Linked DNA regions of Homo sapiens. The protein of the gene in region 2 purifies or fractionates together with the protein of the main gene of each other region. This does not show direct contact. Each region holds a gene or a part of one and is shown on either strand. Other genes may lie near its edges.

Region 1 (7,635 bases), on a different chromosome or scaffold from region 2:
GAGCTGGGCAGAGGCGCTCCTCACTTGCCAGACAGTGGAGCAGCCAGGCAGAGGTGCTTCTCACTTCCCAGACGGTGGGGTGGCGGGGGGCGTGGGGGGGGGGTGGAGGGGGGAGGGCAGGGCAGAGGCGCTCCTCACTTCCCAGACGGTGGAGCAGCGGGGCAGAGGTGCTCTCACTTCCCAGATGGTGGAGCAGCGGGGCAGAGGTGCTCCTCACTTCCCAGACGGGATGGGGGCGGGGCAGAAGTGCTCCTCACTTCCCAGAAGGTGAGGCGGCGGGGCAGGGGTGCTCCTCACTTCCCAGACGGTGCGGGCCGGGCAGATGGGCTCCTGACATCCCAGATGGTGCAGTGGCCGGGCAGTGGCGCTCCTCACTTCCCAGACAGTTGGGCGGCCAGGCAGGAGGGCTCATCACTTTACAGACAGGGCGGCAGCTGGGCAGAGGCGCTTCTCACTTCCCAGACGGGTGACCTGCACTTTTCATGAATGGTACTAACCAGTTTGAATTTATGTGATTATATTTTAAATGTCAGCCTCCCTCCCTAGACTGTGAGCTCTGTCAGAGTAGGGCCTGTGCTTGCTTTGTTCACCACTGTATCTCTAGCACCTTGTATGGCACCTGGCATATTTGTTGAAAGAATGAACTACATCAATGATTTTCAAAGTGTGTTCTGAGGTAGCATCTTATGTGTCGTGGTAAGGGACTGAGGAAAATGTCAGCTGGTTGCCTCCTCCCAGGTCCTGTTTTATTTGGCTCAAATATTGGATCCTGGCATAAGAATATGAGTATACAAGAAATTTCCAGTGCTTCAGAAAATATTGTACAAACTGCTGAATTAGTTGATGTTAATGTATCTTCCATCTTCAATATAACGTGATCCTAGGTCAAAATAACAAAGGGGGCCAGGCGTGGTGGCTCACGCCTGTAATCCCAGTACTTTGGGAGGCTGAGGTGGGTGGAAGCTTGGGGCCAGGAGTTTTGAGACCAGCCTGGGCAACATGGCAAAACCTCATCTCTATAAAAAATACAAAAATTAACTGGGCACAGTGGTGCGTATCTCAGCTACAAGGGACACAGGAGGCTGCAGTGAGCCTAGACTGTGCCAGTGCACACCAGCTTGGGCGACAGAACGAGATCCTGTCTCCAAAAGAAAAAAAAAATAACAAAGGCCATGTAGGAATATACATGTCGTAATTAGGGAGTGGTATTTGCCAGCAAGGTTGGCAGTGGTTCCCTTTTCCAGGAGCAATGAAGCTTCTCTTTCCTACTCTTAATTGAGGATCTCAGGGGCTCCCATCCCTTTCCACTTGGCTAAGAGTTATTCTCAGGCCTAGAGTTTTTTCTTGGCTACCCTCTTTACCATCCATGAACTGCTTTCTCCTTATCCTGTAGGGATTACCCCAAAGACCCTACAGTCCAGCCATTTGGGGTTACTTGTAGTTTTCTCCCATTCACATACTCATTCATGCAGTTCCCTCATCCAAGAATTATTTTTTTCTTCTTAGCAAAGTCATCCTGTAACTTAAATGCCAATCCTTGTAAGAAGCCCTTCCCAGAAGCCCTCCTCCCCTCCCACAGTACTTTATGTATCTATATAGAAACTTCTGCAGTTCAAATGGGCAAGTTACTTGCTTTATCAATAGAAAAATACAAATAATATTACAGGCTCGGTTCCCAGGAAGCACACTCTTACATGACTAGTGTGCAGGAGATTTATTAGGGAATGCTCTTGGGATCATTACTTGTGGGAGGGAAGAAAAGCTGAACTGGGCAGAAGTTGGACTTCAGTGAAGTCTCAATGGAATGCCTTAGCTGATCCTGCAAGTTGTTCTGCAGGAGGAGAAAATCCATCAGAATTGTACCAAATGGAGGTGAGAGGGCTGAGCCTTTTATCCCTGCATTGATCAGTCACTGGATGTGGCCTCTCTGAGAACATTATGACTCTGTGACACTGGCATGCCTGAAAGGGGCTGACAACCGATGGCTGGCTGTGGGTATGACTCTTGGCAGCAGCAGCTCAGTTCTTTATTCCTGAAGTGGGGTCTGAAAAGTGCATCTCAAGGCCTACCACAAATAGTATATATCTCATAGGATTGTCAGAAGCCTAAAATAGGGTAACATAGAAAAGTACACAGCATTTGGCCTGGCACATAGGAATCAAAAGCATGCTAAGTATGGTTATTATAATAGGATTTGGCTCTATAAGTAGAAAGAGCAAGGTAGGGAAACGTGTTTATTTTTGTATCTCTAGTCTTAGCATAGGGCACTAGTATGTTTTATCTTTCCTTTTTTATTTTTGAGACAGTCTTGCTCTGTCGCCCAGGCTGGAGTGCAGTGGCACGATCTCGGCTCACTGCAACCTCCACCTCCCGGGTTCAAGCAATTCTCCTGCCTCAGCCTCCCAAGTAGCTGGGATTACATGGGATAACAGGCGTGTGCCACCACACCTGGCTAATTTTTCTATTTTTAGTAGAGACGAAGTTTCGCCATGTTGGCCAGACTGGTCTTTAACTCCTGACACCTCAGGTGATCTGCCTGTCAAGGCCTCCCAAAGTGGTGGGATTACAGGCTTGAGACACCGCGCCCGGCCTCCCCCACCCCCGTTTTTTTTTGACATACTGCCACCCAGAAACACTAGTATGTTCAATAAATACTTGATGTGTTAAAAACATGTAACCCTTTTTCTTGAAGTAGATGTTACTTTGAGTTGAACTCAAAGCTAAAATACAAAACACCATTTAAAACATTTAATAACTTTTATTAGCAACATAAAAGAAGGCACAACACGTATCCACTTGCCCGAAAAAAAAAATAGTGTTGCAAAGGAAAACAAAAGTAATGAAACAGCACTGGACAATTGTCAAAGAAGAGCCCCAGTTAACGGCTTCTACCACTGGATTTTATATTTTTGGAACATAATCTTTATAGCCACGGAAGGAGGTTTAGCTGTTTTTCCACAGCTCATAAATGATGAAGTTATTTATCTTCATTAATGTGTGTTGGGCTTTATTTTCCTACATGCTCAATATAGTTGGTAGATCTGTTTTGATATTACTGAGCACTGCTTTGTGCCAGACACAATTCTGGGGATACAGCAATGAGCAAAACAGTTTACTAAGTCCCTGCTTTTAAAAATTTTACATTTCTGGTGGTGAGGATACTGACAAATAAGGTCTGGAAGTTGTAACTGTTATGAAGAAATAAAAGCAGGTGAAGAGTTAAAGCAATGGTGCAGGTGTACTTTTTTTGGATACAGTGGTCTGGGCAGCCCTCTGAGAAGGGACCTGAAATATGCATCGAACATCGAGGAGTTAAAAAAAATCTGGAGGAAATGTTCTGCCAGAGAAATCGGCAAGCACAAAGGCCCGAAGTGGTTCGAGCCTGCGTGCTGTGGTACAAGCCAGAGGTGAACGAGGCGAGGCAGAAGCACGATCATAAATACATGTATGGATGTTCTCCTGGCTTGAGACCACAGTGCTAAGGGAGGTGGGGTTTACAAATCTCTCAGGAGGCCACAAAGGGCAGGATGAAGCCGATTTCCAATGGCGGAGCTACGAGGACGCCTTTCCTCTGCTAGGGCCAGGTTGGACGGTTGCAAGGGATGGACTGCAACCCGCCCTCGGAAGACCAAACTTCGCCCAGGGGCAGGGACTGGCCGGGGAGGGCCTCGGCGGCGCCCGACCCGCGGGCGCTGCACGGGCCGCGGTTACCAGCAGGCGGTGTAGTGAGCGCGCCTGCAGCAGCAGCAACAGCAGCAGCAGCGGTCGCCGCCGCCGCCGCCGCCCGCCAGTCCCAACGAGGAGAAAGGAGGGGACCGGAAGGAGCCGCTGGTGCTGCGGGAAGTGGCAGGAGCGGGAGGCGGGGACCCACCTGGAAGCGCCGCGGCGCCGCTATCGAGCTTCCTGCAGCGGTGGCCACCCGAGCAAGTGCCGTGGCGGGGGCGGAGAGCGGCCACGGCGGCGGCGCCTCCCCAAGTGGCCCGTTGCGTCCGACCCCGCGTGAAAGGTGAGCAAGAGCTCGGGACACGTGGTGAGGGCCAGACACGGGGGAGGGAGAATGAAGGGGGAGGGAATGGGGGTGGGAAACGATCGGCTTGGGACCCGGATTTGGAGCCAAGTACCGGGAGGGGGTGGGCTGGAGGCGACGACTGCGACGGCTGCGACGGCTGCGACGGCGAAGCCCCCACGTGGGGCGGGGGTGCGCGCGCACGTGTGCGCGGGCGAAAGGGGGGGCGGGGAGGGCTTTTGGGAGGGCGTCGGGAGCGCGCTCGCTCAGTAGCGGCCCACGTGACGGGCACGCCGAAAATGTTTCCACGTGACAGGGAGGCTGCCTGGGGCAGCGCACTGCGCTCTGTTTATGTAGTATAATCGTGGTAATCGGAGGTTTTTAAGATTTCTGCTTTTCTGTACAAGGGGAAAGGAGGAGACGTATAAAGCGGAAAGACTTCCTACTGTCTCAGTGTTTTAAATGTTCACTACTCCGTTAGTGAAGTGCTTTTTAAGTTCCGAAATACTGATTTTTTTCTGTACCGCCATGTTGGGTCTAGTGGAAGCTCGCGAGATGCGAGTGGGTTTGTATCGCGAGATCTCTCGATTCTCGCGGGACCTCGTTGGCAGAGCAGTTGTCCTGGATGGCGGAGCCTTGGGTTCCGGGGGCCTGGGACCTGCAACTCTTTCTACAAGGCAAGTCGTTAGGGAGGGGCCCGGGGCGAGTGCCTCTTGGTGCCGGGATACGTGCTGCATCAGCTTCCCATAGTCTTGAAGGGAATACAGTAACCCCATTGAGGCAACACTGCCCTCCCCATCCCCCTGCGGGCGCTCCACCACCTGCAAAAGCATATGCACCCCTCAGCCAGGTCCTTCTCCCCACGCAGTGATAGTTCCACCCTGTCCCACTCACTGGAAGTCCGGGAGCCGTGCTCGCGCAGACCTGATGATTCCATTGGATACCGTTCCTCTTACTTTAAGATGTTCTTGTCAGTTTTTCCCTTCTTGCCATTTTCTAAAGTATTCCAGACCGGTTAACTATTGTGTCGCGTTTTCTGCTGCAGTACCTGACTCCAGTCTCCTGAAACAGAACTCCTCCCATCTATTTTCTCTGGGTGTCATTTACTCATCACCCTGACTTCGTATTTTCAGTAACTTTTGGCAGTATTTGGAGGGCCCATTATGTCTCTGACAACACCTGTGGTCAGAATAAAATCCTGCTTTTCATCATTTTGTACGTGCCTATTAACTCAGTTATCGGTAGGGTTTTAATTACTACTGTGTTACTGAGGTTGCCATCTTTGAAGTTTAGGGATGGTTGTTTTAGGTTATATATTTAAGGTAACAGACTGTTTCATGTGATTTTTTTTTTTTTTTTTTTGAGACGGAGTCTCGCTCTTGTCGCCTAGGCTGGAGTGTAGTGGGGCGATCTCGGCTCATTGCAACCTCCGCCTCCCGGGTTCAAGCGATTCTCCTGCCTCAGCCTCTCGAGTATCGAGTAGCTGGGATTACAGTCGCGCTTCACCACGCCCGGCTAATTTTTGTGTTTTTAGTAGAGACGGGGTTTCACCATGTTGGCCAGGCTGGTCTCAAACTCCTGACCTCAAGTGATCCACCTGCCTTGGCCTCTCAAAGTGCTGGGATTTCAGCACTGTACAGGCGTGAGCCACCGCGCCCGGCCTCAGGTCAACTTTTTAGTAAAGAGCAAACTCATAAATTTTGGCATCAGAGTTTGAGCTTTATTTTTCTTAAATGAGTTTGAAATCAATTTAATATTTCTCTCCAATTCCCTAATGTCTCAGAAGTGAATTTACAGTATACCTTTGTTTTTTCGTATTCTTAAGTAGTATTTGGATTTTATTTAGTAGTTGCAGTACTAAATAAGGAGTGGGGAGTTAATTACAAAACGAATCAGGTGACTAGTTAATTTATTCATAGTTTGTTTTTTAAAACTACAAAAGTGTTTTTTTTTCCTATACATAATACAGAGAGGTATATAGTATAGAGTAACACAGTGCTTGTTTCACGGTACCACAAAGTTCCATTCCTCAGTCTTAAATCTCTGTAACCAGCCTTTGTGGTTGCTGTGTATCATTCCAGATATTTCCATATTTTGGTTTAGTTTTTGTTTCTTAAATGAAGGGGAGAAAGTGTTGTTTTAATGGGGTACCAACACAATATTGGCAATCAGTAAACATTTTTTAACTAAATTAAATTTTTATTTAGTGATATATGCCTGTTTGTCAAGACTTACGTATGCATACTTACGCAGATTTTTTTTGTTTGTACTGATTTTTTTGGTAGTATAATCTTGTGAAAATATCACAAGTAACTTATTTTTGCAGTAAAGTTGATTTATTGTGCTTGGTAGCTTTGCACAGAAAGAAAGTACATGTAAAACAAGATTTAAATAAATTAATGTTTTATCACTTGAGTTTTATATTTTTATCTTTAATGTGTGTTATGTATTTAACTTTATATATTATATATTCTAAACTGTAACCTAACTATATAGGAGTTTTTCAGACGTTTTAAAAGTTTATCACTGTGATTAAAATGATAGTTTGACCATGCAACTTAGTGATCTCAATTGGAGAGTGGTAGACATTAGTAGTTAGTACAAACAAAGGTATATATACTTGAAGTTGCTAAGCGGCTATCATTTTGTAAGTGTTGTTTTTGTAATTTCCCCCCGCCAAACCTACCAGTAATAATATTTATCAGACCAGTCACATAAGAGAATTGTCCACTCTTTGGGCAATGTGGTTTTTTGTTGTAACAGTGCAAGTAGAAATGTTGAGGAATAGAAGTGAGTGTTGAGAGGTATGATGTTGGAAAGAGGAAAAGGGGACATTGGGAGTGTAGAGGTTGATACTGAAATGGAATTGGACAAGTTGGGGAGAAAAGAGGAATGTAGAAGGTTGACAGTGAGGCAAGAGCCATGGTGCAAGAATAGTCAGGCTCATAATAGTTGGAGGACAGCCCGAGTCGGTATTTGAGGCAACTTTCTCCTCCTATTCTTTTTTAGATAGTTCTGGGTCTATTCACAGAATTGCTAGATATTTCCTGTCATAAAAGTCAGCAGCTTAAGGTTATACTTAATTGAAACCTTGTGAATTCTTTACTTTAGATAAAGCTATTCTGTTAAATAACATTTGTTAAGTACGTTTTATTATTATTTTTAGAAGTGGGAAATTGTGAAAATGACAATGAGTTTGAAGGTCACAGTTCTACAATGGCCTTTGCAAAGGTATCTACATAAGTTTAGCTTGGTAACTGGGCCTTTAATAGTCCACGTGCATCTGATCTATGAAATAATATATGTTCCTTGTTCTTAGAACTTTTGTTTTATAAACTTTTCAGTATTGGGTCTTGGGAAATACCAGTCTTTTACAGACACGAAATTATTTGAGGTACTTGGTAGAAATATACTGAGAAAAATCCAAGGAAGAGGAAAAATGTATTTTTACATGGTTTGTGTTTGGTTGAGTAAAATTTAAATAACCAAGAAATTTAATTTTCACTTTTCTCAATTATTACGGTCATATAAATGATGAGAGCTAATGAACTTCAGTGATCAGAGGAAACTATTAACAGTGATAATATAATAATACTGATTTATTCTCACTTGAGTTTTTTCCTTAAGGT
Region 2 (6,923 bases):
AGGAAAATTCCCACACGGCGAAGGCGAGGGCTTGCAGGAATTCTCTCCAGGTGGGTGTTAGCATGGATTGCTCCTGCCTTCATGCTGATCCAGAAGCCATGCTCAGGGAATAAATCATTGCTCTTTCTGTCAGCCGGCTCCTTGCAGACGCCCAGGGACCATGACTTCACCTCTCCCACTTCAACCTCCCAGTAATGTTGGCCGGAGGAGAAGCAGGGAGTACCCAGGACACAGGCCAGCCTGGGATCTTTTGTCAGATCGTGGTGGATCTTCTTACACTGAGCGCTTCTTAGATCATTGGAGAAGACAAGGAGGGAGCTGGCAGTGGCTGCATCCAGGGTCACATCCTCCCGAAAATGCCGGAGCTCCTCCCTCACGTGCAGACTTTGCTCAAGTCGGCTATTGTGCTGCTTGGTCATAAGTGTTAGGACGCTCACTTGCCATTCTTCCAAAGCAGGTACCTTCACCACGTCTCGACACAAGGGGCACATCGCTCTAAAATCATGGTTTTCTAGTATATACCTCTGGATGCAATCAAAGCAGAACACGTGTGTACAAGAGAGAGAAATGGAACAGGAGAAAAAATCCAGGCAAACTGGACAGGACAACTCTGCTTGCAGGCGTTTGGCCATGGTTCTTAAGGGTTACTCCTTAGCCGTGAAGTAAACTGAAGTGATCCTTTATTGGCTTCTGGAAGCACTTGGGAGCCCTCAGTACACAATCCACTCTTCAATAGTCTAAATCCAAGATTAAATAATATAAATTAATAAATAAGTTATTGGCATACATAAATGAATTATATTATTTAATAAATAATAATAAATTTATTAACTAAGAAATTAAGAATAACAAAAAAATAATATTTCTGCAGTTTGTGTATGAAAGTGACACTAAATTGCTAGAGAATCACAGTAATGTAGTCATGGTGATAAAAATGATTTCGAAACTCTTCAAACTCTAGATAATCACAAGACAGAAATAGGACAGTGGAAACTTTCTTTTCAGACAGTGCAGCTTACCTAGTCTGAAGACTTCCAGGTGATGTGTTGGCTGCTCCGGCCAAAGTTTCTCCTAATGGGGGCTGAATTCAAGTGGGTCTTTAACAGAATCTCAGTATAGTCTCCACTCAGTATTTCTTTGTAGATCCTCTGCAGTTCAGGAAAAAGAATGTTCATGTCTAAATTCAATAATGAAAATAAAGCCAATTCTACATTAATCATCACAGAAAAGTGACTCTAAGGAATCCTCAGAATTTCCAGGAAAATTACCACATGTGAGTAAAGCCAGCAAAATCCACTGCAAAATGAGAAGCCCATAAAAGAATCAAGTTTAAGGACAAAGTGTTATTAGATGAAATGCTTTAAAGCACTCTAAGAAAACTAATTAAGGCTTGAATTAATGTGAATAAAAATATAATAGTCATCAACTTCTCCAAAATAATCATGCCTGAATACAAACCAAAAAGATGTTCCAGACAAGGAAGATGCCCTCCTGTTACCCCAACTGCTCCCAAAGCTTGAGAGCCTCTGGTGCTCCCAGAGGACTTCCCACCATGGCTATTATTCTTTGAGTGAGCTGTCTCTGACATGCTGGGCACAGCATATTGGACCAGGCTAGACCCATGACCCAAAGACAGCCTCGCAAAGCTGGACAGCACCTTTGAGATTATGTGAACAGAGGACTGTTCTCCAATAAGAGCCTGCACTGAGCAGTAACTAGCAGAACTCCTTACCAAGAACCCACAAATCACACATTCAGTGGTGACAGTAGTAACAGAATGAGGGACAGAAAGAGGAGCAGCATCAACATTACCAGAGAGAGGAAGTGATGAACACCGATGAGGCCAGCCTAAGACTGAGTTACTAGAACTGTCCTACATCCCAGAACACATTCTCTAATCTCTTTCCAACAAATACTTATTGAGCCCCTTCTGTGCTCTTGGCCTCAACTGGACTCTGGAAACACAAACGTGTGTAATAAACAGGGTATCTGCCCACATAAAACTTTGTCTTCCAAGTCCTGATCAGCATTCCAATCTCATGGTGCCTGGCTGGCGGACAACCAGAGATTACCTCTTTCTTAAATTCTGTTATCTTTTTCAATTTAATGGGAAATTTAACATGGTGCTGGAAATCTAATTGCCTAACCCACCTTGGAATGTATCTAAGAAAACAATTTTACAAAAGAAAAAAAATGCTACACTTATTCACAAGTTGTTCATTTCAGTGTTAACTACCATCCCAAATGATCAGGAACAATCGAATTATCTAACAATAATAAAATGATTCAGCTAATTATGACACAACTACTAAAAGTGGCCAAGTATATTTAAGTGAAAACCCGAAGTGAAGTCTTTTTTTTTTTTTGAGACGGAGTCTTGCTCTGTCGCCCAGGCTGGGGGTGCAGTGGCTCCATCTCGGCTCACTGCAACCTCTGCCTCCCGGGTTCAAGCAATTCTCCTGCCTCGGTCTCCTGAGTAGCTGGGATTACAAGCATGTGCCACCACGTCCGGCTAAGTTTTGTATTTTTAGTAGAGACGGGGTTTCACCATGTTGGACAGGCTGGTCTCTTGACCTCGTGATCCACCCACCTCAGCCTCCCAAAGCGCAGGCGCGAACCATGGCGCCCGGCCGAAAACCCAGAAATCTTTTAAGAAATGTTGGAAAATAAAAAGAAACCATTTTAAAACCATTTAAATCCATTGTAGTTGAAAACACATAAAAATACAAGTTCATGCAAAGAGTGACCTGAGGTTCATATGTAAAAATTTAAATGGCAAAGTTATAGTTAAAGGTGAAGAAAGCTCCCTGGCACAGGAAAAAACTAGTTCTTTCTCCTCTAAAATAAATAGTTAAAGGCATTCGAAAACACCAGTTTGTAGCCAAAGACAGAATAGGACATTGGAAATAGCTTAAACAGAAGGTATAACTTACCTTGACTTGGAGACTTCCAGCAGAATTCTAAAAGATCCGAAGCCTACGTCTCTACCTCTACAGACCTCTGCTCCTCTCGGAGTTTCCGCGGAGAGACACCAGCGTTTTTATACTGCCTGGAAAACATTGTCCAACCAATCAGAGTCAGAGGCTCCGCCCCAAAGGTTGTACCACTCTAATCTGAGTAAACTCATCAACCCACCCTTCCGTTTATGATGATGACATTAAAGCAGGCTTCAAATTATATAGTAAAAAAATTCAAAATTTCTTAATAACTCCCTGAATTAGAGTGAATCTACTGCCATCTGCTCTTGTCTCTAATTTCAGAACTCAACTTTAAAAAGCAAAATGTGTTGGAGATCAAATACAGAAATGCACTGCTGAAACCTAATCACCTCGTGGCTAATGTAATCATTGGTGTTCCTATTCCTGATAGAATCATGAGCGGACAGGATCTACAACAGTTTTCATGTCCTTTGACTCAACAATTCTACTCTTAGGGGTACTTACTGGACAGGATAAGAAAGATGGCAGCTAGGCAAGGCTATTGTCCTGTAATTATTAATAATTCCATTTTTTACTCTCAAAAGTGTTCTTGGATGAACGGTAAATTTTATGGTGTCTGTATCGAGAGCAGAAGGAGCAGTAAAAGTCACAACAGAGGAAAGCTAAGACACAAACTTCCAAAAAAGGATTTGGAGGGTGAATGAAGTCCCATTGTAGAGAGGATCGCTGGAATATACGTTTTCCCCAAGAGAGGCTGCATTCTAAATAACCTCTCCTTTCTCAGGCTTCCTGTTCTGCAAGGCCCAACACACAGCTTACACAGCTTTTACTTCATTTTTACCTGGTGCTATCTCCTTTTCTGTGAGTTAAATACTTGCAGGAGCAGGTCTCAAGCGTTGCTGGGGTTTTTTTTTGTTTTGATTTTTGACACAATCTTGCTCTGTCTCCCAGGTTGGAGTGCAGTGGCTCAGTCTCGGCTCATTGCAACCTCCACCTCCCAGGTTCAAGTGATTCTTGTGCCTCAGCCTCCCTAGTAGCTGGGATTACAGGAGGCCAAGGTGGGCAGATCACATAAGTTTAGGAGCTCAAACTTTTTAAATTGTAATCTCAAGACCCTTTAAACTTGAGATTTTAATCTCAAGAATCCTTACACTCTCTTTTTTAATTATTCAAAAATGTCATTTTATTTTTTCTTTCATTTTATTTTGAAATAATTTTAGACACAGAAAATTTGTAGGAATAGTAAAAAGAGATATATTCTTTACCCAGATTTACTATTTGTTTTTTAATTGTCTGATGTATGTATACACTGTGAACTGATTAAATCAAGCCAATTAACATATCTGTCACTTCACATACTTATCATTTTGTCATGAAAATGTTCAAAATCTACTATCTTAGCAATTTTTAGGTGTGCTATACATTATCATTAGTTATATCCACCATGATGTACAATGGATCTCCAAAGAGTATTCCTTCTATCTACCTGAAAATTTTGTACCTTTTAACCAATATCTCCCCATTTCAGTCTTCTTTTCATCCCAGTGCCTGGTAGCCACCATTCTACTCCATGCTTCCATGAGTTCATTTTTTTTTACTTTTTTCCATTCCACGTATAGGTGAAATCATGCAGCATTTGCCTTTCGGTACCAGCTTATTTCACTCAACATAATGTCCTCCAGGTTCCATGTTGTTGAAAATGATAGAATTTCTTAAGACTCGATAGTATTCCATCATGTACATGTACCATGTTTTCTTTATGTATTCATCTATTGAGGAATATCCTGATTCTTTATGCATTCATCAGTTGATGAATATAAGTTGATTCTCTATCTTGGCTACTGTGAATAATGCTGTTATGAACATAGGAGAGCAGATATCTCTTCAATGTACTGATTTTATTTTCTTTGGATATATATTCAGAAGTAGAATTGCTAGATCACATAGTAGCTCTATTTTTAGTTCTTTGAAGAACCCCCATACTAGTTTTCATAATAGCTGTGCTAATTTACATTCCCACCAATGGTGTACGAGGTTTCTCTTTTCTTCATATCTTTGCCAGCATTTGTTATCTCTTCTCTTTTTTATTTATTTACTTTTTTCTCATGCCTGTAATCCCAGCACTTTGGGAGGCCAAGGCGGGTGAATCGCGAGGTTAGGAGTTCAAGACAAGCCTGGCCAAGATGCTAAAACCCCGTTTCTACTAAAAATAAAAAAATTAGCAAGGCGTGGTGGCGGGCACCTGTAATTCCAGCTACTTGTGAGGCTGAGGCATAGAATTGCTTGAACCTAGGAGGCGGAGATTGCAGTGAGCCGAGGTCGCACCACTGCACTCCAGCCTGGGAGACAGAGCAAGACTCCGTCTCAAAAAAAAAAGAAAGAAAGAAAAAATTATTCTTACAGGTGTAAGGTGATATCATTTGCACTCTTATACATAAATGAGAAATCCAAAAAGCTTTTTGTTCATATGAATTATATTTCTTCATATTTACAATATTAGAAATTCAAACTGAGAATTTTTTAAAGCTCTAATTAATTAAAATAAAACTATTACATGTTAACATAAATAATATAGTTTTATTTAAACAAATAACTATTTTCTAAAACAAAAACAATTACTTAGAAGAGTTCCATTGTCTTGAATGTTTGCAAACCTCTGTAATTTTTGCTTAATAAAAGACATCTGGATTCTTACATCTACTTTTGCTGAACCTGTTGTGATATGTTGCTTTGATTTAAATATGTGAAAAAAAATGTGGCTTCCCACAGATGTTTAGTTGGAAAAGGGAAGATTCTGCAGACTCACTAAAAGTGTCTCAGGGACCTCCAGGACCTCTCTAAACTATTCAAAGATCATTGCCCTACTACAAATTCTATAACTCTAAGTGGCAGCAGCAAATCTTAGTTCCTTGGTAACCAAAAACTCTAATGATGCATCCAGCCATCTTTTCGTCTGGCTTCTGCCATCTCAAAACTAATACATATGATATGGCTAAATATGGAACATTTTCTCTCCTTTTTCCAATAATGATGAGGCTTTTTTCACTTTTCCATTTAATTTATTTAACTGCAGTGATGATTCCAAATCAAGTTTTTCTCTATCACTGAATAACACCTACTAGGCCCTCAACAGATGTTGATAATAACAAAAAACATCATTCCTTACTGACTCTTACATTTTTCAGCCAGCTCTGACTGTGGCTGGACCATACACTGACTTCATGCCTCTAAGCTTTTGTCTGCCAGGAGAAATATTTTTTTTCCCAGAAGTACTCACTTTGATTCCCAGATTCTCCATTATTACAGGAATACTGAATTCAGAGAGAAGCACCATTTTTTTTAATTTTCAAGTGCTGGAAATATTGGAAGCCACTTATCTGTGATATCTTAATACTCTCATGACAACATATCAAAAATGTGCATGAAAATTTTTTTAATTTTTAAAATAATTTTTAATTATCATTAATGCTTCCATGAGTTAAGATTAAATCACAAATTAATTTTGTTTCCATAGCTTCCTGATTAAAAAAGGAATCAACTTTCACACATGCTAATTAGATAAGATGAAGCCACTAGTGGGGAGGAGGGAATAATCAGATCTGTCAGGAATCTAAGATACTTACAAGTGGATGATATGTTTGCTCAAAACACAGTTTGCATTTTTCAAGAGGCAGCAGCTGTAGTGGGGCAGCTTTTCACAATTAGCTTCCATCCCCTGGTGTGGGGCAGGTGCTGGCTTGCAACCTCCTCTTCTCTCCCACCCGTGTCCTCTCCTCTTTTCTGCCTGGTTATACATTAAAAGGGACCCTTCTGTCTATCTTAAAGAAGATAGAGGGCATCTCTCTGAATTATTAATGCCATCAAAGCCTGCTAATGGAGTTCCCTGGCTCTTCTCTTCAAAAGGAGCTGTGTTTTGCAGATCTGGCGAATTTCATGAAGAGGAATATTTTTGGCACTTAGGATATGTAGAGTGCTCCACTTCCA
Region 3 (7,026 bases), on a different chromosome or scaffold from region 2:
TTTCCATCTTCTCCACCCCTTTATCTAATTAATCATTAAATTTTCTCCTATTCTCTAATGTATCCACATTTCTCTAGCTCCTCTGCTACTAACCTTGGTAAGGATAGCATCACGTCTTGCCTCCTTGCAGCAGGCTTCTATCTGATATCCCTACTATCAATCTTGATCCTTTTAAAACACAAATCTGTCACAAATCCATCTGTTTCCCCGTCTTACAAGATGAATCTCCCTAAATTCTTAACATGATTTCTAAGTCTTTCTTGAGTTAGCCCACTGCTTACCTTTCTAGCCTCCATTCTTTCCTCACTTCCTCTCTCATGCTCTGTTTCAGCCATAATAATGTGCTATGCTCTCTACCCTCTGGGTCCACTGCACATGCTGCTCCCTGTCTGGACCTTGTCTTTAACTGTACCTCCTCTGAGAAACCTCTAATCCCTGCAACCAGATTAGGAGTCCTTCCTGTAATTAACTGTCTGTTCTTCCCTATGTTATAACTGCCAGCTTACTTGTCTATATTCTAAACTAGAATATAAACTCCTCAAGAGCAGGGATGACATTGATCCTGCTCAATCTCCATGAGGGAAGAGATTTATGTATCTTCTTGAGAGTTATGTCTCTAGTTCCTAGGATAACTCCTGGCATATAGCATGCATGTAGGTAATAAATACTTGCTGAATGAATGAGCTTACTTCATATTGTAGTTGTAAAAATTAAAGTAACATGGGAAAAGCAACTAATTCATAGCAAGCACTTATATATATACTATTTGTTACCAAAATTAAAATTTAGCTGTATGCTCTAATAAACTTGTGTATTAGGTTACTGTGGACAAGATGGCTCAATGTGTTGACTTACCATGTGTTGATTATTAGAGATACAATTAGAGGAAAAGGTATGGCCAAATAAAACAGAAGACTGAAATCTAAGAGTGGCATATTTGACAGTATTTCTCTACTTTTCACCTTTGGGTAGTAGAAACAAAAATATCTATACCAAACAAAAAAAAAAAAGCTGAAAACCTAGCAATGAGAGAATGATGAATGAGGAAATCTTTCCAACAGTAGTGTTTCTTTAGTCTGGGTAGAGACTATTTTGACACAGGGGTGGGATACTCAGTTTGTCTCTAGTGCACCAGAAACATAAACATATTACATTTTCCCCTTTTGCTTTTCCTCAGATGCTGGCTTTTCCTTAAAATATATCAAAATACAAAAAACACAATAACCAACCTCTAAATAATTGAGTGCAGTGTGGCCTGATCTACTATATAGCTAAAACACTATAAATTCTATAAACTTGGTGTTTAATTCTTTGTAGCAATAGGCAATGGCTCTAAAATCTTGAACCATGGTACCAGGTTCATTTGTGGGAGTAAAACAGTATGTGTGCCCTTTTACCTATGTTAATAAAAACAGCAGCTTCTAACTAAACTTATTCATTTTACTATTTATAATAAAGGTTACTTTTTTTGGTGGAGGGCTAATACAAAAACAATAAAATCAAACTGATCAGTAAGTAGTCTACTGCATCTTTCAGTAAAGTGAACCAAAGTAATTTGAAAGACGTTAAAAAAACACTATAATGTAACAGTTTAATTAAAACACTTAACCTACTCTAAAATATTTTATTATTTTGTATTTTGTTTGTATGGTACTGATACAAGCTCCGTAAAAAATCAAATTGGATTTACTACTTCTATTACTGCTCTTTGACTAAATAATGTTAACTACTTTTCTAACAGCTTGACTTGGGCCCAAATTTGACTTACCAAAAGTTAGAGAACGAATCCTAGATCACAGAGATACAGGGTGAGCATCCCAAATCTGAAAACTGAAGTCCAAAAGGCTTCAAAATCTGAAACTTTCTAAGTGCTGAGATGATATTCAAAGGAAATGCTCATCGGAGCATTTTGGATTTCAGAATAGGGATGGTCAATCTCTAAGTATATAACGCAAATATTTCAAAATCTGAAAGTATCTGAAACATTTTTGGTCCCAAGCCATTTTGGATAAGGTATACTCAACCTGCAATTCTAATATAACCCATTATTCAATTCCAGTAAAAGAATAGGAACAACTGTTTAAAGCAGTCAGAAAAAAAAAAAAGTTTGGTTTTTGTCACTTTTATTCTTTAATAGTTTACCATACCAATTTTCAATCCTACATTAACTCACACGTTAATTAATTCATTCACTAATTAACCAAGGACTATATCAGGTATAATTCCTCCACGTTAGGCCATATTTCATATCATACTCCTTGCTGTTAGATGGCTCAATGAAAGTATTTGAGGAGCAAAATAAAAAGGGATCTCCTTCAATTAGAGATCTTTTTAGTTTTTAAGAAGCAAAATGTTGCGATAAAACCTGAACTAACAATCAGTAATCTGTAAATTGTCTAGTGTAAAACCTCTCAAAGTGGGTTTTCAAAAAAATAACATTGAATAAACGTGTGGATAGATTTAAGAAGATCAACATCACTTCAGAGAATTAAGACTCCCTGCAAAAAGGGTTTTGGATATAAATACAAGTATGCATTTAACTCAACAATACAATGAAATATCCAATCAGAAAACAAAAAAAATTATGTACATGATCCTGAAATAACTAGATAATTTCTGCCAAATGACAGGGGGCAAAATAAAAGTACAAAAGTTATAAACATATTGGAGAAAATGAAATAGAATTTTCTTACCCAACGATGACTTTACAATTGATTTAATTCCTGCATAAACCAATGATCCTTTGTTGCCTGGAGATTTCTGATCCATATCTTCTGTGTATTGCTTCATAAGTATTTAAATGCATAGGAAATACTAGTGATGCATGACAATATATTTCAAAGCTAAATTTATTTTGATTTGGAGCCAATTCATAATAAGTATCAGTGTAAATAAGGTGGTTCGACTCTATTGCAGAGATACACTTTTCTTCCTCCTACACAATCTACAAAGCAGTATTTCAAGTTCGAAAGTTTAGAACAATTTTACTTTATAATGTTAGTATTATGTAACTTGTATTTGTATATAAAACATTGAGCATATTTACAGACTGACCTTTTGGCAAACTTCAAGAACATTTCTACCTGATTCACCTCACAAAATTCACAATGAAAAGGATATAGTGCAGAGTATACCAGAGTGACTTGAGCTGTGGATCTTCATTTCCAGCTAAAATGTGGTTCCTCCACACCTGCTCTGTATCAAGTCCATACCTTGATAAAGCCCGAAGACGCATCTTCGTTGCTATATCTTTTTCTAAAGAATTATCATTTTCTTCTTCCGTACATTCATATAAATGACGACCACAAGCCCACATTAAAGATGTAATTGGGCTCCAGGCAAGAGATATCCTTTCAAAAACAGTGAAGTCTGACATTGTTCGGTTGGGAGTTACAACTATCATTCGATTTTGACTTGTTGGATGCCACGCAAAGGAAGCAATGTAATTGTCACAAGGTTGCACACTTCTTTCAATTATTGTGGGTTCAGTTTCATCCCCAATGGGAGTGGGTGTATGCTGCATATCATACAATCTAATAATATTACTATCCCTTGTTAAAGTGGCAAGTAGACCAGTCCTAGTGGGACACCATGCTACTTTTGTTAAGGGTTTTGGTTGCTCAGTCAATGTCAAAACTGGCTTCTCAAATTTTCTAAGATCCCATATTGCAACCTGACCTTCATAGAAGGAAGCAACACGATCGTGGAAATATGGGTCTACCGTCACACCCTGAACAGCTTTTGTATTTACGAACATCTTTTGGCTTGTATTCCGAAGATCAAATATAGCTAGGTTACGATGCATACCAGCAAGGAGAAGTTTCTGGTCTCGTGGAAGCCAACAAAGAGACAGACAAGCATCATTCTGTCCTAACTCATAAAGTGGTTTTGTTACTAATAATGTTGTTTCAGTTTCACCTGCTGAAAGTTTCACTTTTTCCATGGGAACTATATCAGGAGTATATTTGCTGCAGATATCCCATATTAGCACTGAAAAGTCAGCTCTGTGCTTATCTAAACCAGCAGCTAGCCAGTTACTATCCAGTGGATTCCAGGCAAGGGTATTACATTGTCGTGCATGTTTTGGAACAAACTCTTTTCCTATCAAATCTTTGAACTTTGAGTTATGATCTTGACCAAGGCTTGTAAGTACAACTCGACCATTTGCTTGTCCAACTGCCAGCAGACATTCAGGATCATAATTAAGATACCAGGCAACACATTTCATATAGGGTGTATCTGAATTTATTGACAGTAATGTAGCTGCAGAGTCTTCAGATAAACGTAAAGATCCAGCTTTGAGTTCTGAATTCACAGTAGATTCCACATGATAAAGACTTAGTTCTGAGTCACACACAACAAATCTATCAACATGGTGTGGTGCCCATAAAATATCAGGTTTGGTACCGCTCATGTTTACTGATGTGATCAAAGGGTCCACTCAGGTCCATTCACTGAAAATGTTTAAAAATAAAAAGTTTTAAAATATCAGCAAAATATAATTCTTACGTTGAATAAACTATTCAGAAAGTCAGAAAATTCTCTATTCAAGAACCCTCTTTTTCAATATATTTGTATTTCTTCTCTCTATCTGCTATGAATTCAAGAAAATATTTATTGAAAAAAAAGGAGAAAGAACAACCACTTCCAATAAAATGAGCTGGTAGGAATCTGAGAATCCCATCCTGGCTATATTTCCCATGATCAATTATCTTAATTGCACTGTTACTAGTACCTTCAGCTTAACTTCAGAGTTATAACAACTTCAGTGTGGTAAGCAAATTAATAAGTATTATCCCTTTGAAGGGGGGAAAACTTATGAATCATATTCCTAAGCAATAGTTTAAAGCAGCACTGCCCAATAAAACTTTCTGCAATGACAGAAATGTTTCATGTTCATGCTGTCCAATATGGTAGCCACTAGCCACATGTAGCTACTGAGCACTAGAAATGTGACTAATTCAAATTTTAAACCTTAATTTTAACAAATTTTAATATAAATAACCATATGTGGTCATCGTAATGAACAATGGAGATTTAAAGTACAATGTCATACTAAGACAGCGGTTTCTTCAACTTTAGTAATAAGCATCAGCCTTGTATGGCAGAATAAACACTGGAATGTACTGAACGAACCTGAGTTCTAGTCCTAGCTCTGCCGTATATTAGTTATATGCCTCAGAAAAGTCATTGTGTGTGGGGAACCCCTTTGTTTTCTCATCTACACAATGTAGGAGCTGGTTTAGATTAGTATTTCCCAAACTTCAGTCATGTAACACCTATGCCATTAATATTTTTCTTTAAACTGACTCATTTTTAAAATCTGAAAATTGACTTTAATCTCTTCATAAGGTCCATGAATCATGGTATGCTATGCTAAATATATTTTTAACCTACACTGAAATATATAACTATTAAAAAGGCTTGATTGTGTTTTATCTACAAAGCATCCTGTTTATGACCAGTGGTACACACATACCACACTCTGAGAAAGTGGATTAAGTGATCATTAGAGGCTCTTTCAGTTTTCGCTTCTACAAACTTTGAATAAGTGTTAAAGTAGAATTTTTGAAAAAAATAAATATTCTAGCAGTAGAAGCACACGAACTAAATATAGCTATAGTTAAAAATGGTGTTTCAATAATTAAGGTTGCCTACAAAAATTTAAATGCCTGTTTCTAACAGAGGCTGGCAAAAGGTAATAGATTCAAAAAGAATGAACATACTTAAAATCTTCATTGCAATTGGCATCTGTACAACTCTGTTGTCAGTTCTCATAAGGTAAAGCTATGGTTCACTTACCTCTCTATCCTTAGTGCCATATATAGAGCCTGGCATAGACTCCTAATAAGGATACACTAAATAGTTCAACTCAAACATAATTGCTTTTCTTTTTGATCTTGCAAAAGTTTCAGTTGGGAATTACCAGTCTAAAACTTCATAGACTCATATAATTTAGACCAGGGGTCCCCAACTCCCAGGGCCGCAGACCAGTTCTGCTCCCTGGCCTGTTAGGAACCAGGCCACACAGCAGGAGGTGAGCAGCAGGCAAGGGAGCTAAGCGTCATCTGTTATTTACAGCCACTCATCTCACACACTGCTGCCTGAGCTCCGCCTCCTGTCAGATCAATAGCAGCATTAGTTTCTCACAGGAGTGCAAACCCTATTGTGAACTGTGCAAGAGAGGGATCTAGGTTGTGCATTCCTTGTGAGAATCTAATGCCTGATGATCTGTCACTGTCTCCTATCACTCCCATATGGGACCATCTAGTTGCAGGAAAACAAGCTCAGGGCTCCCACTGATTCTACATTACGGTGAGTTGTATAATTATTTCATTGTATAGTACAATGTAAATAGAAATAAAGTGCACAATAAATGTAATGCGCTTGAATCATCCTGAAACCACACCCCCACCCCTCATCCGTGAGAAAATTGTCTTCCATGAAACTGGTCCCTGGTGCCAAAAAGGTTGGGGACCACTGATTTAGGAATTCTTATACTGGTTTTATTTCCTTCTTTAGCATTTCTCAAGCCCAAGATCAATCATTTCAATATTCTTACTAGCACCCTCAATGTCTTCATTTCCTTGCCACTTTGGGTTTGCCTTTCCCCAGTCCTAGATCAACCCAATTATTTATCATCTTGTCTCCTCACTCAGGCTTCCAAGTGCTACCACACAGAGGATAGTCTCAAGCCTCTGAAAACTGATTTCAGTAAATTAAGGTATACAACATATCTGGTGTGTGGTGCTGGAGGCTTTTCTTTTATTCATCTTTCCCCTGGTCCTTCAGAAATTTTGCTTTATAGAATACCAGAGTAAAAATCTTTCTACAACACAACCTTGACCAGGCTATCCTTCCTTGCTTAAAACCCTCTAATGGTCTTCAGCTGCTCTTAGTATAACCTACAAAACCCTAAATGCTTTTGGTCTCTGCCTACTGCACCGGCCTTGTGGCACAACATTCTTGCTGTCCTTTTACACTGTCCTTTCCACTTCCTAGAGTATATACCCTCCTCCCTCATCA
Region 4 (7,026 bases), on a different chromosome or scaffold from region 2:
TCTATGTAACAGCAAGATAGGAAAGTCTACTTTAATAACATACCCAACAGACATTTTCGAGACATTAAATGTAGATAAAATGGTAACTGTTCAAAGCTGTCTTAAAGCCCATAGAGTCTCATCTCCTTTCCTATTTAGGTTCATGTACTACTTAACATTTATGATTTCTTTATTTTCTTTCTCTCCCTGCTTTTGGTGGTTAGAGTGTAAATTGTTAGTTTCTGTTTATTTTTCTGAGCATTGTCAGCCTCAGAGTTAGAAAACCAAGATGGTCTCACTTCTGAAACTTCTCCCAGTTCCTTTGGTTCTATATCCCCAGCTGGATTCATGTGTTGATCCAGAAAAGGAGAGGGATATTGCCGTGTTTTGTTTTTGTTTTTGTTTTTGTTTTTGTTTTGGCAAAGGGCTTGGGACCCTGAGTAGTAAGTAGCAGACGGTCCCAGTGCTAATTAGATAAATCTAGCCTTACAGGCTAGACCAGATGGTGGGTTGGGAGTTGAGCAGTAGAAAGGCCTAATGGTGATAGCAGTGAGTATTTGGATATCATTATTTTATTAGTTAGCAAACAGAACCATCCTTGTGGTCCCTCTTCGGTTTTATGTGTAATGGTGCTGTAGGTGTCAGCCCCCGAGTTGGCACAATAGCCTAATCAATGTATTCTAATGCCTTTTTTGATATACACTGTCATCTCATTAGCAACACACAGGGAAAGGAGAACAAATAGAGTTTTACAAATCACTCTTAAGTATCAGATCACATAAGCCTGGGGGCCTCTGAAAGAGCAATTCCTTGTTTTGTTTTCCTTGAGGTAATTTCCTAGGGAAACTTGCCCTTGACTTTTTTTGGATTACTGCAGTAGATCACCTGGACTCTGGCGAGGGCAGCTGAGCTTGGCTTTTAAAAAATTACCACAATGCCTCTGACAGTGGACATCTCCTTCAAATAAGAGAAACAGTGAAAAGTTTTTTTGCTTGAGGTATATCTACATGAGACAAAGCCCTGATGAGCTTGGTCTGTTTGAATGTGTTGTGCTGTTCTGCCCGGGCCCATGATGTGGGCACTCTTGTTCTATGCTCACATCAAGGGTAAGCCACTTCTTCCTGGCAGGGAATCACACGGTGGGACTCAGAGGGATTCAAATGAAAACCGAAACAAGGCCTATAGGCACAGTGCCAGTTAACATCTCATTGGTGCTGTTGTGTGGAGTGGATGCTCCTCACCAACAGACATTCCTCCACCCTCAGATCTTGCCACCTTACCAGGCTGAGCCTGCTGCCTGCCTGACCCTGCAGTTTGTTCTCAGGAGCTGCAAAGTGCAGACTAGGGCTGTCATGGACATTGGCATAGAGCATAGTGGGAAATGAAAAGAGCCCTGGCCATCCAGCCGCAGCTGGGCTTTGTTCTGTTTCCTCTCTTGGTAGAGTTAGAGATTAGTATTAGCAAGGAGCTGTTCCAGAAAACTGGTCTCTAGATGTTCCAGTTCTCTTTCTCTTAAATGAGAAAGTAAGATACAAATTTATGAAATGACTTTCTTCTCCAAGGTCACATAACAGGTGTTGAATAGGATTCCTGCCCCAAGAAAGCTCTACCTGTATCATCTTTTTCTTGGAACCAGTGGGTTTGCATTTTCATTTATCTTGGTTTTGATCTCTGGGACAATAACAGCTGTTAAATGGCTCTCTAGGAATAATTTTTAATAACTTTTTCCTTATCTAATCTCTCAAGCGGTATTTCCTAAATGTGAACTAAGACTCAGCAGGTGGTTGTGGTGGTGTTGACTATCCTATAGTTTCCTGCTAAGGTGGGAGAAGAGACATACTTTTCTTGCCTCCTGTGTTTTGTTCATTTGACATTTTAGTTTGAATGAGAAGGTATTCTTTAGCATTTCTAGACAAGGTTCAGGCCCTTAGGAAGTCCCTAAAGTTTCTTGGCCCCAGAATTTTTACAGTATCAACTCCAAAGTTTCTTATCCTCTTTTCTTTCTTTGTCTGATGCAGCTTCCGTGAATGTGCTGGTGCAGAACTGCAAGATCTACAATGATGCCAGCTGTGACATTTCTGCAGATGGCCAGCTCCTGGCAGCTTTCATCCCCAGCAGCCAGAGGGGCTTTCCTGATGAAGGCATCCTGGCAGTGTACTCCCTGGCCCCCCATAACCTGGGCGAAATGCTCTACACCAAGCGATTTGGTAAGGGATAGGAAGCCCAACCTAATGACAGAGGGACGCTGGTGCCTTGGCATGGTCATTGCTAGGTGAGGCACAGCTTGGGTGGGAGTAATGGTCACATACTGCCCCTACCTTCACTGGGGCACAGGCCAGAGAAAGATTGCTTTGCAGGAGTGCTGGCTAGTAACATTGCAGAAGCATCTGAGCATTAGAGTCCTACCGCATGCCCCTGTTACGACGGTCAGGAATAAGGGAGGAGGTGGTTGTAGCACACACATGCACTGCAAGACAGTTTGGCATTGTGTATTTAAAACCTCCCAAAATGTGTCAGCTCTTTGGCAATCCAGCTTTTAAGGAAATAATCAGAAAACTATACAAAGATTTACATACAAGGGTGTTCACAGCAGTGTTACCATACAGAAAAATGCCAAATTGTTGCCTTGAGACTTTTTTGTTTGTTTGTTTGTTTGTTTTGCGGGAGGGTGGGGTGGGTGTTTTGTTGGTGTCACCTTGAGTTGAATTTAAGTGTTTTTTGTTTTTTTTTTAAGAGTTGACTAAACAAATGATGGTGCAGTGATAGAACTGCTCCATTGGCCCTTAAAATGCTCTTACAGAACAGTGTTCATAATGTATTAAATGAAAAAGGTGGGTTTCAAAATAGTAATTACAGGATGTTAACAATTTTTTAAAATGTTGATAACAACGGTTAGCATTTATTAAGTACTTTCTTTCTTTTTTTTTTTTTTTTTTTTTTGAGACGGAGTTTCACTCTTGTTGGCCAGGCTGGAATGTAATGGCGTGATCTCAGCTTACCGCAACCTCTACCTCCCGGGTTCAAGCGATTCTCCTGCCTCAGCCTCCCGAGTAGCTAGTATTACAGGCATGCGCAACCACGCCTGACTAACTTTGTATTTTTAGTAGAGATGGGGTTTCTCCATGTTGGTCAGGCTGGTCTCAAACTCCCTACCTCAGGTGATCCCCCGACCTCGGCCTCCCAAAGTGCTGGGATTACAGGCATGAGCCACCGCGTTCAGCCTTATTATGTGCTTTCTATATGTCAAACACTACACTCAGTATGTATATGCCTTCTCATCATACTCCTCACTACAGTCCTATGAGATAACACCAGGATGAGCAAGTGAATATGAAGATTAGAGAAAAAGACAAGAGTAAGAGTGAAAGTTGTTTCCTTGGAATGGCCAGAAGCCTAGGAAATATTTCTCTGTTTTGTTGGCCCTCAGGTCCCAATGCCATTTCGGTGAGCCTGTCCCCAATGGGCAGATATGTAATGGTGGGCTTGGCCTCACGAAGGATCCTGCTGCACCCCTCCACAGAGCACATGGTGGCCCAGGTCTTCAGGCTGCAACAGGCCCATGGTGGAGAGACCTCCATGAGGGTGAGTGCCATTGCTTGTGCCTTCACTGTATGGCAGCTCCCCTAGGCTTGGAAGGGTAATGAGGGGACAGTGGTGTGACCTCCCAGCCAGGACCAGAGCTATCACACAGTCATAAGGAGTAAGGAAGGGCTGTAGTCAAGCCCATCCATGACCAGCAGGCTTCATTTGTGGAAGCTCTGGACTATCAAAGGCCTTTCCTCACACCCTAGAATATGTGCTGCATTCCCCAGAGGCCTGCAAGTATCTTCAGATAAACTGAATACTTCCTTACTTCTACGTGAAACTTTTAATCTGGAGATGCATAAAGGACCCAATGAAATGCTTATTTTTAAAGCTTTTTGTGTGTGTGTGTGAGGGAACAAGCTGTAAAAAGTAATAGTATGCCATGAAATGTTTTTTTTCTGTGGGTTATAATTATGATGGAAGATGAAGACTTTAGGCAGTTGCTGTATTCTTAATCATCCCATTCATTTCACCAGTGGAGAAAAGGTCCTGTCTAGGACCCTGTCTTGTCTAAGGCACGTCTCTCTTATATTGCCATAAAAGCCTTCTGGGCATCCTGTGGTTCGTGGCCTTTTGGCCTCAGCCAGACTAACGTGCCTGAGTGAACGTCCCACGTCCCATAGGTGCTCATTTAGCCAGGGTTTTGTCAAGGGGATTCAAGCATTTGAACAGTTCTCTAATTAGATAGTATTCAAGCTTTGTCAGAATCCAAGAACCTGTGAATTTCCTTAGTACTTTGTGCAATCTGTACCATTTATAGTTGGATGTACTTGTTGGTCCATTTTTTGTCTTCTTTAGCTGTGTAGCGTATGTGTTTAATCCACCCAATTCGGTTCAGTGTAAGCTCCTTAGAGGGATATCCCTCAGGTCCCTCATTTAGTGCTGTGCATGTAGATGGCTGTTGAATATCTGGAATGGGAAGCATTTGTTTTAAATAAAAAAACTAGAGATAGCACCCATTATATACAAAGTGATAGAAAGTGGGTGGCCTGGTGTGGTCCTTTCCTCTCCAGCCTCTTCTCCCTCCTGTCTCCTACAGATATCCTCTGTCCAACTACACTGAGCCACTTTTCAAGCTTCTTGAATTTGTCAAAGTGCCTTCTTGCCAGGGTACCTTTACTTGGAATGCCCTCCTGTCCCCTATCTCCAGCTACCTGCAAGCTTTTTACTTTCTGTGGCATCCATCTTAATAGAATTGATCACTCGTTCCTTGTGCTATCATTGTACCTCTTACACATTCTCATGTCAGTACTTGTCACACCAAACTGCAGTTATTTGTTTCCATGTCACTCTCTTCTCCTGGGCTGTGAGCTCCTTGAGAATAGAGACTGTGTCTGTTTTATCTTTATGAAGTCCAAGAACTTCATGCGGAACCTGACACTTAGTAGAAAGTGAATGAATGAATGAAAGAGAATCTCAAAAAAAAATAAATAAATAAAAATAAAGCATCCTCTTTATCATTTCTAGGTGGTAACTAGCAGAACCAATGATGGGTAACATAACATCATGTCCCACCAAGCTTCTGAAAGGAAAACAAGTCATTCTGTCCTCTTGATATCACAATGACAAGAAAGTTCTGATCTTGAATTCCATATGGCTGGAAATATTTGACATTGGGTGAATAGGAGATGTCATTGTGGGATGTTCATCAAGTCTATTTTCTTATCTAGATATTTGAGGATGGAAGTTGAGTTTTCATTTAAATATTCTTCTTTTGCTTCTCTTAAGCAGAAGCTGGTCTCTGCTTTTCACCACCTGGAATCCCAGTCCCAACAGCTGCTCTTCTAACCCTTCCGGCCTAATTGTGGAATAATCGTTTAAATCATTAAGAGACAGAATCTGATGTTGGTAGCTCTGACAGACCTCTCTAGCTTCTTTCATAAGCCAGGGCTCTTGCCCAGCTCCTGCACACAGCCTGCCAGTTCTCCATCTTAGCACAGTTCCACTTTTCCATAGTAGCCAGAAACATCTGGCTGAAGACAAACAGTTACAAAGCAGAAGCCAAGGTGATGGGATCTGTTGTCACATATGGGGCTGGCAGCTCAAGGAATGTGGTTCTCTGCTGAGGAGATGTGGTAATCCAGTCAGCCCCTGGCTGTCCTGCCAAGGGTCTCAAGGCAGCTAGCCAGCAGCTGCATGCTTGGTGACTGGAGCTACTACTACTGCCAGGCTGCCTGGTGAACCTTTTTTGATTCTCAGTAGGTACCATCTGCCACCAAGCACTAAGAAAGGGAGCTGAAGTACCTAGAAAGTTCCCATTTGGGAAGTGTTCCTGTCACCCAAGAGACAGGATCAAGGCATCTCAACAAGGTTTAGGTCAACCAAGTGTCCACCCAGTCTGACTTTAAACCCCCATGCTACAGAAAGGTTTCTGGTTTTCCAGGTCTTGGTTGCCCCTTACGTCCAAAGGCACCAGATCACTCAGCAAATGTCCCTGAATTCAGTGATTGGTGGAAGGGAAGACACCAGCTTTTTTGGATAGCTGTGCTGTATCACCGTTTAAGGCAAGAAGTGAATTTTTGTCTGAGAACAGGGAGCAAGGGTTTAATGGGACAGTACAGCATCTCCCTCTTTGCACAGGTAAGTATAGGTGGGTGTCTCCATCTCTAATGTCAAGCTCTGACCATAAAGGAATGCTTTAGTGGGTAATGGGCCTGTCCTAGAGCTTTGCTACCCAGAATTCCCCTTCTGTCTGGTGTTACCTCTTGGAATTCACTGTGGTAATGTTCAGAGAGGCAAATGTGTTGGGCCAACAGACATTCCCAGGAGAACATCCTCCAGAGCATTGATTTATTTTAAGATGGCACTAAGTGACATCTCTCCCCAAGAGATGATCTCTGACACAATCCCATATGAAAACTCTTCTGAAAATGAATTGCTAATTGCTATTAGCCTTGATGCACTTACTCTAAGCAGTTCTTCAGACTTCTGGATCAGTGCTTCTCAAACTGTGGTTCTTGGACAACTTACAGTAGAACTACATGGGTCCTTATTAAAATACAGATCCATTTCAGACCTAAAATCAGAATAAGAATGGGAGTCAGAGGGACCCAGGATTAGTATTTTTAAAACAAGATTTCTTCATTTTAGGTGTCTGCCCTCAGCCTCCTCAGCAAGGCAGAGTCAGTCTCAGGTCTACTTGCCATTGTGGTTTTGTGCATGGTGCTTTGATTCTTTGCTAATTATGTTGCAGGCACAGTGGTGTTTGTCTTCTGTTTCCTACCAAACTCAGCTTTTTTGGCTGTCTGCGCCTCACCTCCCATCTTTTCTAGGCTGTTGCTGCTTTCCAGGTTTCTCCCTTGAATAGCTGTATGTGCTGGAGTCTTTTCTTTATGTTGAATCATTTTAATTTTTGTCCTTATTTCTAGGATCTAGGGTCCTTTTGATCTTTCCCTTCTCTGTTTATCGTGCTAGTCCTCCCAGTTTTAATGATGGGTAAGTCAGGAAAGTAAGACTGGGCAC

The links.
Region 1: the proteins of RFPL4B (region 2) and ZZZ3 purify together in Homo sapiens (affinity purification with mass spectrometry; 3 studies listed by BioGRID and IntAct, with this or other methods). This does not show direct contact.
Region 3: the proteins of RFPL4B (region 2) and MIOS purify together in Homo sapiens (affinity purification with mass spectrometry; 4 studies listed by BioGRID and IntAct, with this or other methods). This does not show direct contact.
Region 4: the proteins of RFPL4B (region 2) and AMBRA1 purify together in Homo sapiens (affinity purification with mass spectrometry; 3 studies listed by BioGRID and IntAct, with this or other methods). This does not show direct contact.

What each region holds. Positions count from the first base shown.
Region 1 is NC_000001.11:77,679,633-77,687,267, reverse strand, and holds the start of ZZZ3 (ZZ-type zinc finger-containing protein 3), read left to right. Parts: upstream 1-4,609; 5' UTR 4,610-4,683; intron 4,684-7,635.
Region 2 is NC_000006.12:112,343,418-112,350,340, reverse strand, and holds the start of RFPL4B (ret finger protein-like 4B), read right to left. Parts: upstream 3,012-6,923; 5' UTR 2,934-3,011; intron 1,149-2,933; 5' UTR 1,020-1,148; intron 738-1,019; 5' UTR 633-737; coding exon 1-632.
Region 3 is NC_000007.14:7,569,864-7,576,889, reverse strand, and holds part of MIOS (GATOR2 complex protein MIOS), read right to left. Parts: intron 4,455-7,026; 5' UTR 4,415-4,454; coding exon 3,121-4,414; intron 2,793-3,120; coding exon 2,694-2,792; intron 1-2,693. UniProt on the Homo sapiens protein: As a component of the GATOR2 complex, functions as an activator of the amino acid-sensing branch of the mTORC1 signaling pathway. The GATOR2 complex indirectly activates mTORC1 through the inhibition of the GATOR1 subcomplex.
Region 4 is NC_000011.10:46,430,009-46,437,034, reverse strand, and holds part of AMBRA1 (activating molecule in BECN1-regulated autophagy protein 1), read left to right. Parts: intron 1-1,997; coding exon 1,998-2,186; intron 2,187-3,406; coding exon 3,407-3,561; intron 3,562-5,947; exon of another isoform or gene 5,948-6,144; intron 6,145-7,026. UniProt on the Homo sapiens protein: Substrate-recognition component of a DCX (DDB1-CUL4-X-box) E3 ubiquitin-protein ligase complex involved in cell cycle control and autophagy.